Linked DNA regions of Homo sapiens. The protein of the gene in region 1 purifies or fractionates together with the protein of each later gene. This does not show direct contact. Each region holds a gene or a part of one and is shown in the gene's direction. Other genes may lie near its edges.

Evidence for each region. The genes of interacting proteins can lie anywhere in the genome.
Region 2: the proteins of ABCG8 (region 1) and TMEM184B purify together in Homo sapiens (affinity purification with mass spectrometry; one large-scale study listed by BioGRID and IntAct). This does not show direct contact.

What each region holds. Positions count from the first base shown.
Region 1 is NC_000002.12:43,841,971-43,845,470, forward strand, and holds part of ABCG8 (ATP-binding cassette sub-family G member 8), read left to right. Parts: intron 1-1,816; exon of another isoform or gene 1,817-2,131; intron 2,132-2,458; exon of another isoform or gene 2,459-2,536; coding exon 2,537-2,638; intron 2,639-3,500. UniProt on the Homo sapiens protein: ABCG5 and ABCG8 form an obligate heterodimer that mediates Mg(2+)- and ATP-dependent sterol transport across the cell membrane.
Region 2 is NC_000022.11:38,221,011-38,224,510, reverse strand, and holds part of TMEM184B (transmembrane protein 184B), read left to right. Parts: exon of another isoform or gene 1-32; intron 33-1,848; coding exon of another isoform or gene 1,849-1,869; intron 1,870-2,764; coding exon of another isoform or gene 2,765-2,800; coding exon 2,801-3,042; 3' UTR 3,043-3,500. UniProt on the Homo sapiens protein: May activate the MAP kinase signaling pathway.

The sequences.
Region 1 (3,500 bases):
AGATGCATGTTAGCCCACATGAGTCTCTTAGAAATGGATAAGATTTTTTTTTTTTTGACAGAGTCTCACGCTGTGGCCCAGGCTGGAGTGCAGAGGCACGATCTCGGCTCCCTGCACCTCCACCTGCCGGTTCAAGTGATTCTCCTGCCTCAACCTCTTGAGTAGGGTAGCTGGGACTATAGGGGTGTGCCACCATGCCCGGCAATTTTTTTTTGTATTTTTAGTAGAGACAGGGTTTCACTGTTTTGGCCAAGCTGGTCTTGAACTCCTGGCCTCAGGTGATCTGCCCTCCTCAGCTTCCCAAAGTGCTGGGATTACAGGCATGAGCCACTGCGCACAGCTGGCAATGGCTAAGATTTTTTGATGATTCAACAACAACAACAAAAATGGGACAATGAAGCAATGTGCACAGTGACAGCGGAGAGGGCGAGTGAGGGGCAAGGCCGAAGGGCTGATCTGCCAGGAGTCCAGCATCTGTCCGAGCTGCTTTCAATCTCCTCAGGAGCTTGGGGCACAGACCTTCTTACCTCCTCTCCCTCAACCTCCCTCCTGCTTGGGGGCTTTGGCAACTGGGGTTGAGGTGGGAATGGAACTCTGGAGTTCTACTCACTGGCTTGCTCTCTCAATTTGACAACATATTGTGAAATATCGTACACAAATCAGCTTAAAGAACTCTCATGTACACACCACCAATTACCAAAAGCTTTGAAGCTTGATCCCCGCACTCCTACTGTGTCCCCTTTCTCCTTTCATCTCTCCCCGCTCCCCAGAGATAACCCCTCTCCTGAATTAGGTGTTTATCTTTCCCATTTTTTTCTGTATAATTTTGGGTCTTTATGGTGATAATTCAAACATTAAGCAATGGAAGTCACTTTCGTCTGCTGTTTTTCATACTCTCCCAGAACTCTAAGGGTTCCCCACAGCACGCCTGCGGCATACTGTCACCGAATTTCTTTCCCTCCACCTCCACTGACCTGGAATGTTCTTTCCGAGAACTTCTGGCCCCCATCATTGCAGGGGTACTTTGACAAGAAGACTGCTGTATGTTATTTGTTATTTTCACGTAAGGCATAAGTCATGTTAGTTTCACCTACAGCATGTGCGTGCATTGTGTACATAGTGAAAATAAACCCTGGTCAGATGCTTGAGGTCAGCCTCCCTCTCTGCCTGGTCTGTCTCGCTCCATCGTAATCACCTGTCTCATCTGCCAAAATCTAAGCTTTTCAACGGCCTTTTCATTGTCACATCCCAAATTCCAAGCCTGAAGGGTGTTCTGGGCTCCCCATAAGTGTTTGTTGGGTGCATGGTTGATTGAAGGAATGTATAGTGTGAGAATGGTAGCTTGAGGAGGAAAGTCTATGGGAACTTGTTAATGAAAGTGTACTTGTTCCTGCCTGACAGAAATGTAAGAAAAATTGAATGCAGTAAAAAATGGAGGTCAGACGAGGTGGTTCACCCTTGTAATCACAGCACTTTGGGATGCTGAGGTGGGTGGATCACTTGAGCCCAGGAGTTTGAGACCAACATGGTGAAACCCTGTCTCTACAAAAAATACAAAAATTAGCTGGGTGTGGTGGGGAGGCTGAGGTGGGAGGATTGCTTGAGCCTGAGAGGTTGAGGATGCAGTGAGCTGTGATCATGTCACTGCACTCCATCCTGGGTGATAGAGCGAGACCCAATCCAAAGAAAAAGAAATGATGGGGGACTTCCTGTTGCTTCTTTGTTTGGGCCTCAATGGTTTAAATGATTGAATTGTCAAAATAGGAGGAATTGAGATCTGCAGATGGTTAATACCATTCAAAGGTATCAGCCGACACCATGAAACATTGATTTTTTAATGTACATTCAAATATACCACCACTTCGACAATAACAACAACATGATGATGATGATGAGAGGGACTTCCTCTCAAAGCTCCCAGCAGCATTTTCCATCACTTTGTTGCATGAACTCTTCATCAAAATCAGATATGAGGAGAAGTATGCCAGATGTTAGTGAGGACTAAGATGTTGGTTAGAATTTTTCTCAGGGTGGTATCTTCATGAATATTGGGCATTAACTCTCAACAGCTGCTTCCCTCTCACATGCTGCAAGTGTCATGTCTGTTTGGCCTCAGGAGATATTAAGCCAGCTGCAGGGAAGAGAAAGTTAAAGGCAAAGAGTTTGCCCACTCCAGTCAGGTCTTCTCAGAGCACAGAGGTTTTTTTATAGAACTCTCTCCGGTCCAGAGTCTGGGTCTCTTTACCAGAAGCTGCTTGGCTTCAGGCTCCACCAGCCTGAGGTTGAGGTTCTCTGGGAAGGTGCCCCGGGAGAAGCCCCAAACCTCTCTCTGAAGGGAAGAGGAGATGGGCCCTTGTCAGCACTCCTATTTTCCCAAAGCCCTGAGGTTCCACCTGTGCAATCCCATCTGTTGCCAATTTGAGATTTAACCACGTCGGCTCTAAGAAGTTGCTCTCACCTGTTGGTTTCCTTCTTGTCTTCTCCTATGTTCTCAGCAGCTTCTAAAGGAGCCCCTCATCTCTCCTGTCTCCCACAGGGCCTCCAGGATAGATTGTTCTCCTCTGAAAGTGACAACAGCCTGTACTTCACCTACAGTGGCCAGCCCAACACCCTGGAGGTCAGAGACCTCAACTACCAGGTAGAGGCACGCCTGGGTTCAAGGGGAGAGGAGCAGGCAGGGACAGCCAGGAAATTCCCCGGGTGGAAATAAAAGGGTGGGCCCAACTTGCAGGCCCTCTGCCCGCAAGGACAGAGTCCAGTCCACATTGATGCCTCACGTGTCAGGTGCAATAGGTGTCATCAATGGCATATATCAGAGCTGGAGGTTGAGAGGCTTGAAAAGAGAATAAAACTGTTGTATAAACATAAAACAAAATGCGTGAACCTATAGAAAAATGTCTCTGGGACTCTTTTTAAACTATATTTTGAAATAACTTTAGATTTTGGAAAAAATTGCAAAAATAACACAGTGTTTCCATATACCCATTGTCCAGCTTCCCCTAATGTTAACATCTTGCATACCCATAGTATAATTATGAACACTAAGAAATGAACAATGTACAATGCTATTAACTACAGACTTTATTCAGATTTCATTAGTTATATATATATGTGTGTGTGTGTGTGTGTATATATATATATATATATATAATTTTTTTTTTGTAAAATGTACTATCCCTGGAGCTTATAAAACATCCAGAGTGCAAAGACAATGACTGACCTTTCAGAGGCACCCAGGAACCCCCTGGTCAGATTCAAGGATCCATATTCCCACAGCTCCCCAGGGACCCAGATGGGACATGGTGGGGTCTGGGATGGTGAACTTCAGAGGCCTGAGTCTGGCTTCCTGTGGGTGTGAGTTGGGACAAGCCAATGAGCCTTTCTCTGCTCTGCCACTTACCAGCTGTGTGACCTTGAGCAAGTTGCTTAACTGCCCTGAGCCTCATCTGTAAAACAAGGATTCTGAGCATATCTATGTTATAGATTTGCAGTGAGGATTG
Region 2 (3,500 bases), on another chromosome or scaffold:
AAATTCCCTCGGGCTTCTAACTCCCAACACTGTGGTTACCATTTTGTCCTGTAATTCCCTCATCTCATATGCTATTTTTTAAAAAAAGGATACTTCTGGCCGGGCACGGTGGCTCACGCCTATAATCCCAGCACTTTGGGAGGCCGAGGCGGGTGGATCACAAGGTCAGGAGATCGAGACCATCCTGGCTAACACGGTGAAACCCTGTCTCTACTAAAAATACAAAAAATTAGCCGGGCGTGGTGGCGGGTGCTTGTAGTCCGAGCTACTCGGGAGGCTGAGGCAGGAGAATGGTGTGAATCCAGGAGGCGGAGCTTGCAGTGAGCGAGATTGTGCCATTGCACTCCAGCCTGGGTGACAGAGCAAGACTCCGTCTCAAAAAAAAGAAAGAAAGAAAAAAAAGAATACTTCTGAGAAACAGACTCGGATGGTAATAGGTTTTAACAGCTTTCTTTTACACCTGCGAATCTTCCTCCTTGCTAGAACAGTGGTAAGTAGCCCCAGTTGTACTGGAAAATGCCCTGGAGAGCTTTTGGAAGTGCTGATACCCAGCCCCACCCTCGGAGATCCCGCTGTAATGGGTCCGGGCTGGCAGGCTGGGTGTGCTGTGAGAGTTCTGTGCTTTAAGCACTCCCAGGGTGATGTGAAAGTGCTGCTGCCCGGGACGCTCCACTGGGCTGGAAGGGCTGCCTCTGGCCACTGGGCAGAAGGGGGTTGTCCTTGGAGGATGGGGAAGAGGAGGCTGGGAATGCCTGAGACTGATTGAGCCAGTAAAGGGGCAGGAGGGACTGGGGAGAGGGGAGCCTCCTTCTCTGACACATCCACCCAGGAGCCTGGCTGCTGCCAGCTGTCTGCCCGAGTGGCTGGAGGCAAGAAACCCACTTCCCCAGGGCCTACCTGCAGGCCCCACACAGGCTCCGTGGTGGGTGGTGTGGACTGTAGAAATGTCTGCCTGCAGCGGGGCTCCGCGGCCCACTTCCCGCCCCCCTTCCTCTGTGCCTTCCCTGGTGGGGGAAGACCTACTCTGTGCCCAAAGAGCAGGTGCACAAAGGCCAGGGGTTGCCACCTGGTGGCCCAGTTGGAAGGATCTAGCAAACACACACCCAGCATTGAGGGCAGTGTCCCTTGGACCTGGTGTGGTATACCCTGTGCCCGTGGGAACATCATCCTTGGGCCTGGGGCCTGGGGCCACCCCAAGGAGCAAGGGGGCCCATGGCAGAGAACCATTCCTGCACCACTGGGGCTCAGCAGAGGGGCTCTGCTGCCTGGCCTGAGCTGTCCCTCTAGACATACCCACGCCCGGCCGGGGAAGCTGCTTGCCCTCTTCTGCCTCCCCACTGGTCCTGAGCCCCCTGCTACCCTCTAACCCAGGCCCAGACCCTCAGCCCTCAGGATAGGCTTAGGTGCAGAGCTGGCTCAGCTGTGCGATTGTAACCCCTCCCTCTGAGCCTCCATGTCCTGGTCTGGGAAGTGTTGTGAGGTTTGTAAAATGTGAGGTGTGGATGTGGCCCCAGGCTAGCCGGGGAAGAAGTGGGGATGGGACGTCCTGACCTAGACGTGGAGGCGGAACTCAGTCGCCAGACGGATGTTTCCTGTTGGCGTGAACACCAGGGGAGGAGTCATCCCTAGGTGGATATCCCCCCTGCCAGGCCCCAGGAGGCACCTGGAGCTTCCTGGGTGCCCTGTGGGGCCTGGGGGGGTGGGGACAGGGTGTGTGGTGTGTCGTGCTGGTGGGCCTCGGTGGTGGGCACACATTGTTCACTCAGCTGTCTCTTGTCTTCTCTATTTCTTTGGCTTCTCTCCCCGCCCCCCTTGCCCTGCTTTTGCCCGGGGTTTGGCCGCGGGCAGTGCCAACATACGGCCCTTACGGTAGGTCCCGCTCTTGGTCTGCATGTCTGTCCTGCATGTCAGTTCTGGTCACTGTCACTGGCATGCGTCTCTCTGTAGCTCTTCTCCGTGTCCTCATCTCCTCCCCACCGGCACCCCCTGGGTGGGAGCGCCCAGAGCACCTGTCAAGGGCCACCCTCTGTAGAGCTTGCCTGCTTCCGTCCTCGTTTCTCGTTCTGGAATATGCCCCGCCTTCTTCTGGGGGCACAGTGCTGTTCATGGGATATCGGGGCATTTCACGATGTTTCCAAGAGTTCACAAGCTGAGTCAGGAATCCTGGGTTCCAGGGGTGGGCTCGTCCCTTACATCCAGGTGTCCTGGGCCACCTTTCTGCTCTGAGCCCCTGAGGATGGGGACAGTTGATTAGAGAGATGAGGAGGAAGCCCTCTTAGAGGGAGCCAGTGAGTCGCATCTGCTCCCCTGGGGGTGCAGGCCAGCCTGGTCCTGATCTCCAGAGTAGAGGGAGCACAGCACTTCCCCCGGTGGTGGGGGACGCGCCTGGCACCTGTGGAACCGGGCACCCCTGGCTTCCAGGCCCTCTGGCCCCACATGCCCCAACTTCAGTCAGTGCTGAGCCTGCTCTGGCCTCTCTGGGGCATTCTAGGCTCACTGCCCATAGCTTGCCAGTCTCCACCCTGGGTCCCTTCCCTGCAGCCAGCCCAGCTCCCAGTGGGGGTTTATGTCTGCTCCTCTTCACAGTCCAGCCTCCCCTTGGGGCTCCCCAGCCAAAGAAGTCCATTTTTTCCTGCCCCTTCTCATATCCTGGACCCCATTCTCTGTCCCAGAAGGGATGGTTGAAGGGCATAGCTTTGGGTTGGGGGGTGTCTGTCCCAGGATCACGGGCAGGGGCTGAGCCACCTCCCTCTCACCGTCCCAGCCTCCTCACCTGCCCCTCCCGCTCCCTGCCCGGCAGGCCGCTGTGCCCCCATGAAGAGCATCTCCAGCAGCCTCAAGGAGACCATGAACCCGCACGACATCGTGCAGGACGCCATCCACAACTTCTCACCTGCCTACCAGCAGTACACGCAGCAGTCCACCCTGGAGCCTGGGCCCACCTGGCGTGGTGGCGCCCACGGCCTCTCCCGCTCCCACAGCCTCAGTGGCGCCCGCGACAACGAGAAGACTCTCCTGCTCAGCTCTGATGATGAATTCTAGGTGCGGGCTGCAGTGGCGGAAGTGCTGGCGCCATAGCCACGGTCAGGCTGTGCCCCACCTCCAGCCTCACCACCAGGCCAGGAGGCAGCTGGCACAGTGCTCACGCCGCCTTTATTTATTGGACCAGAAACACTCACATGTCACTTCCAGAGGAACGGGGGACAGCCAGGCTCGCCCATGGGCCTTCAGGAATATTTATACATGGCCCAGCCTGCACTGCCCGGGCGAGGGCAGAGGACACTGGGAGCAAGGCTTATGCCCCTGCTGCCCGTCCTGTGCTGGGGGCATGCTGGGACCAGCCGCACCCAGGCCCCAATGCTTGTGTGTGGACCAGCGGCTGCAGCCTTCTAGCCCCTCCTCCCCGCGAGACTCTCAGGCTGAGGTCGGCAAGCCGTGGCTCCCCCACACACCGTGCAATACCCTGTCTGACCTGGGCTCTTCCCGCCTGCATCCCTCCC